2 separate regions of the Homo sapiens genome follow, and region 2 is linked to region 1. Evidence: fine-mapped expression QTL. A gene starts in region 1. The other region holds a variant in brackets. All regions are shown on one strand. Distances are from middle to middle.

Region 1 (2,907 bases):
AAAAGCCTACAAAAGGATGACAGAATCACATTTCACTCAGTGAGTTCAATTAACTATACATTCAATTGTGGGGGCAAAAATAAATGACACCACGATTTACTGGGTATCTACTATGTGCTAGGTAATGCACTAAGTACATTATGCTCTATACTTCATTTAATCCTCTCAGCAATGCTGCTCATTATCGTCATTTTACATGAGGAAACTGAGGTCCAGAAAGGTTAAGCAACTCACTACAGGTCACACAGCTAGTAAATGGCCTCGAATAACCAGTAACTCAGACACTGACCTCTCTTTGGTTTCTTGTTAAACAAACACCTAATTTATTTCTTGGAGGTTTTGTTCAGCTGTCCTAATTTATGACTTTACATTCCTTCTGGTGCTAAACTGCTCAAGTAGCCTCTTGTATCAAGTGTGACCTGATTCCTTAAGAATTTTACTTAATGAGAACCTCTAAGCTAGAAACTCTTGCTAGGTGTTTCATGCACCTTATTTTCTTTAATCATTACAACAACTCTAAGATTGGGTTCTCTCCACCTTATAAATGATGACTGTTTTAGAGAGGTTAAGGTTGCTTAAAATTGGTGAGTTAGTGAGGGGTAGAGCCACGAATGGATTTCTGGTCGCTGCCTCCATCGTCAGGGCAAGCTTTTCCCACGACTCCAGCGCTTCCATTTGTCAGTCCCCAGGCTAGAAAGCCACAGTGCTAATTTAGTATTTATCAAGCGTTTGTAGTGTCCTGGGATCTGGCACTTCGATGAGAAAGCTGTGACGGCCCCAACTTCTAACAGCGAGTGGTAAGGAGGACGAGGGACACAGGAGGGAGGAGACTCTCCCCAAAGCTTAGCACCAACAGAAGTGGTCCCCCGCAGGTTGCTCTGCGAGCGCCACCTCTTCCCTCCAACCGAGGAGAAAGTGGCGCGCCTTTGAGGAGTCCGAGGTCCCGGCCCAGGCGGCAGCTTGGGTCCTGGCGGGTTCCGGACGGGCGCCTCAGGGACCTGGAAGCAACCGCACCGAACGCGACGGAGAGCGGCGAGACGACTCCAGGAGGCGCCCGAGCTACATCCCCCGGCCACACCAAACCCGGGTTTGCTGGCAGACGCGGCTCACGACACCCCTTAGGGTCGCAGCCCCTCCCCCGGAAGTGACGTGTAGCGACTACGGCGTCTGGGAGGGACCCAGGAGCAGTCGGGGGGTTTGAGAGTGGCGGCGGCCGCGGAGGGCCTGGCAGGCCCCGCCGCTGCAAGGAACGCCCCGAACGCGCGCGCCCGGCGTGTAGCGGCCCCAAGACCCGCGCCGCCGCTGCCGCGTGCGGGGGCGGGGAGGGCGGGGCGCCAGGAGCCGCGGCGGCGGGAGATGCGGGCGGCTGCGGGCACCCGGCGGGCTCGGCTTGGCCGCCGCCGCCTTCTACGGCTCCGCCGCGGGGGTCGCAGCGGCTGCCGCGCCGTCCTCGAGTTTCCAGCGTGAGGAGGAGGCTGAGGGCGGAGAGGCGCATCGTGTTCGAGGCGGAGACCGAGGGGGAGCCCCGCGCGCGGCGTCGGTGAGCGGTCAGCCCCGCGCGCCCCCTCGGGATCTCGCGGCCACAGCCCCACCGGCCGGGAGCGGGGGCGGGGGCCGAGGGGCGCGCGGCACAACAGGAAGTGGGGGCGGGGGCCGGGGCCGGGCGCGCGCGCTCCCCTTGGGTCCGCCCCCGGCCCGCCGGGCACCGCGGCGCACAGGTGGACGCCGCAGCGCACCGCTCAGCTCTCGTCGCCTCTTGGTCCCCCGAAGTCTCGTGGGCGAAAGGTGGCGGCGATTTTTTCGGCGTGGATGGGGAGGAGGGGAGCAATTCTCATTTTCTGTAGTGACAGGAAGTTGGAAAATGAAAGTACAGTAATTCAGTGCTTACCAAGGCCCGGTGAGGTTGCACCTCTTCCCCCAGACTTTGATCTCCTGTAGGGCACACGCGGCCGTCCGCGTTTCTTCCTCTCCCCTAGCTCGCTAGTCATCCGGTGTCGAGTTTCATTTCTTTTTCTCTTTCGCTCCAGCGGCCCCCCGCCCCTCTTTACTTTCCGCCTTGTGCACAGCTGCATCGAGGCTGGTAACTTCATTCCTGGGAAGATCAATTGGAAACATCTTTCGGGGCGGGATAGTAACTGGCCTTGGAAGGAAATAGGGATGTTGTTGACTGAAGTAGTCAAAAGTACACACTTCACTTTTTCTCCAGCTATTGCTATTTGAAATTTGGGGAATTTAAATAAAGATTCTGGAGTTCTATGCCTCATCAGAATGGTTTGTCCATCTCTTTGGTTGATAGATCAGATCCTCTGTCGTCTTTTCCCACCCCCTACACCCCCTGGCTTGGAAAACTTGGTGCTTCAATATTTAGGTTTGGCAGCGGTGTTTTCATTAAAATGTAGTATGATTCAATATTTTCCCTTCAGGAACACTCTTCTCTTTGATTTTACTTAAACATTAAAACTGCGTAAGTGGAATCTGTTCATTCCTAGTGAGGTAGTGTCTTTAAGTTTTATTGTAAGAATATTGTAAGAACTGTGCAGGATCCTATACAAAGAGTATTTTTTAGGAGCCTGTGTAGTTAAAAACGTCATGTTACTTTTGGTTACTTTTTGACAACGGTGAGTATTTTGATTCGAAACTAGGCTTGATACATTCATAACTTGGTTTTTTAAGTAGCAGGCTGAAGAAAATTTGGAGACTTTGTGTTTTTTTGGGTCTTAGCTACTGTCTCTGAAAAATAGTTGGGCTATGGGTCACCACAGCAACTGGACTGTGTGTATTATAAACATGTTTAGGGTGGAAAAGGTTTTATTTAATAGAGACTTCCTTTCCTTAATACATTACTTCAACATGCTCCCTTTCAATTTAGGACAGGGATTGGTCTATCTTTGAAGTGTTAAAATAGAA
Region 2 (2,907 bases), 25 kb after region 1:
TAGGTGGTGAACAGGGGAGATTGTAAAATGATTGTTGACATAAAAGGAATTAAGAGAGAACTGAGTGGCTAGAAAAAATATTCACCATGTGAAATCTCTTTTTGTTTTACTTGAAAAATAAAGGGTTTTTAAAAATTTAATCAGCTGGGTGCAGTGGCTCACACCTGTAATGCCAGCACTTTGGGAAGCCAAGGCAGGTGGATCACCTGAGGTCAGGAGTTTGAGACCAGCCTGGCCAACATGGTGAAACCCTGTTTCTACTAAAAATCCTCCCAAAATTAGCTGGACGTGGTGGGGTGTGCCTGTAGTCCCAGCTACTCGGGAGGCTGAAGCAGAAGAATCGCTTGAATCCGGGAGGCAGAGGTTGCAGTGAGCTGAGATCACACCACTGCACTGGTGTGATCATGGGTGACAGAGCAAGATCCTATCTCAAAAAAAAAGAAAAAAAAATCAGAGGCTTTTATCTAGCCCTTGTAAAAAGCAATGTAGACTTCACTTAGCAAATGAAATTAGGCTTTTTTAGAATTGGGTCAAAATAATATACATAAGGGAAAGTGGGTTGTTTTGTTTTGAGACAGAGTTTTGCTCTTGTTGCCCAGGCTGGAGTGCAATGGTGCGATCTCGGCTCACTGCGACCTCTGCCTCCTGGGTTGAAGCGATTCTCCTGCCTCAGCCTCCCGAGTAGCTGGGATTACAGGCATGCGCCACCACACCCGGCTAATTTTGTATTTTTAGTAGAGACGGGTTTTCTCCGTGTTGGTCAGGCTGGTCTGGAACTCCTGACCTCAGGTGGTCCGCCCGCTTTGGCCTCGCAAAGTGCTGGGATTACAGGCATGAGCCACTGTAACCAGCCCAAAAGTGGGGTTTATAGGTGGCAAAATGACAGCAGAGAGCTGTTTTCGTATCTCTTAATGAAAATCACAGGAGGATAGAGTGACAGATTGTTCTGGGGCAAAGGGGGCAGTTCACTACCCTGGTGAAATGGGTGAAATGTCACTTTGGTTGGTGGGTCAGTCAGCATGTGGAGCACAGTGAGGACTACTGCATGCTCCTAACACACTGCTCTCAGAGTATCAACTGCGACGGTAGTCCCACGAGGTAAAATCAGTTTGGGAAATGGGTTCTTCACGGAAATTCAAAAGGAAATTTCAGAATATGAAAAGTGCCAAGTCCTTCAGTTAAAAAGCCTGTTTAGGCTGGGCGTGGTGGCTTATGCCTGTAATCCCAGCACTTTGGGAGGCCGAGGCAGGTGGATCACGAGATCAGGAGATCGAGACCATCCTGGCTAACACGGTGAAACCCCGTCTCTACTAAAAATACAAAAAATTAGCTGGGCGTGGTGGCGGGCGCCTGGAGTCCCAGCTGCTTGGGAGGCTGAGGCAGGAGAATGGCGTGAACCCAGGAGGTGGAGCTTGCAGTGAGCTGAGATCATGGCACTGCACTCCAGCCTGGGCGATAGAGCGAGACTCCATCTCAAACAAAAAAAAGCCTGTTTAAGTCACCACCGTTTTCTAACCTTTCTGACTGTTGACACTTATTTTGAGAAGCCTACCTGTTTTGCAAGCACTTTCTGTGTTTTATAGGTGCGTTTAATGACAAACTAATACCCTAATATTGGGTAATTTTCCAGGGTTGGCATTATCAGGTAGGAGATAATAATTAACAGTTAGATGATTTCACATTGATTGTTGCTACAAAACACTGTACTAACTGGACGACCGACCCCCTGTAACTGCAGGGAGTCTATGAAAGTGACTTCATTTTATTAAATGAAACAGGAGTGGGCCGGGCGCAGTGGCTCACGCCTGTAATCCCAGCACTTT[A/G]GGAGGCTGAGGCAGGTAGATCACCGGAGGTCAGGAGTTAGAGACTAGCCTGACCAACAGGTGAAACCCTGTCTCTACTAAAAATACAAAATTAGCTGGGTGTGGTGGCGCGTGCCTGTAATCCCAGCTACTAGGGAGGCTGAAACAGGAGAATCGCTTGAACCCGGGAGGCGGAGGTTGCAGTGAGCCAAGATCACGCCATTGCACTCCAGCCTGGGCAATGAGAGTGAAACTCCGTCTCAAAAAAAAAAAAAAAAGCGCAAACTCAAACAGCTGTGCCAGTCAGCTGACAAGCATTGGTGTTAAGGAGTCCATTGGATGGTTCCCATGTTTTTTGTTTTGTTTTGGGGTCAACCGTGCTGTCACCCAGTCTGAAGTGCAGTGGCACAGTCATGGCTCACTGCAGCCTCAAACTTCAGGGCTCAAATGATCCTCCCACCTTGGCTTCCCAAAGCACTGAGATTACAGGCATGAGCCACCACCATATGTTTTGAATATGTCACCATAATTAACCAAAACTATCTTCTTTGGTCAAGGTCATATTGCCTTACATGTTGCCACATCTGGTGGTTGACATTCGGTGTTCATTGGACCTCTTGGCAGCACTGATTACTTAACTCCTTCTTGAGATGCACTTCATGTGCCCTCCAGGAAACCACATTTTCTCCTGAACTTCCTATTTCTCTGGCTTTTCTCATGTGCGCTGCTGGGACTTGTTCTTTTTCTAAAACTCTAGATGTTGAAGAATCCCAGGGCTCAATCTGTCCATCTCTACATTCATTCCCTAGCTTGTGTCATTTTAGTCCTATGACTTTAAATACTTCTTTATGTGACCACAAAATTTGTATCTTCAGCTTTGACTTCTCTTTTAAACTCTAGACTTCTATATCTAACAGCCTTCTTGACATCCAAGATTGCATCATAAGATGATCATGTCCAAAATAGAACTCAGAATGTCTCCCCATGGCCTTCCAGAGTTAAATGGCTTCATCATGTACCCAGTTACTTAGGTCAGATTCCTTCAGGTCATCGTTGATTCTTTTTTGTTTGTTTTTTTGAGACGGAGTTTCACTCTTGTCACCCA

Evidence for each region.
Region 2: its variant is fine-mapped to the expression of ELK4 in fibroblasts (GTEx, PIP 0.99).

The regions. Positions count from the first base shown.
Region 1 is chr1:205,630,265-205,633,171 of GRCh38, reverse strand. It overlaps ELK4 (ETS transcription factor ELK4), which reads left to right and starts at 1,161. Exons shown (of 5, transcript NM_001973.4): 1 at 1,161-1,540. RefSeq lists enhancers at 774-1,083, 1,694-2,113 and silencers at 1,254-1,403, 1,494-1,683.
Region 2 is chr1:205,604,844-205,607,750 of GRCh38, reverse strand. No RefSeq gene overlaps it. Among named protein-coding and RNA genes, the nearest start is that of ELK4, 26 kb to the left of the region's middle. The variant A/G (reference allele first, on the strand shown) is at 1,824.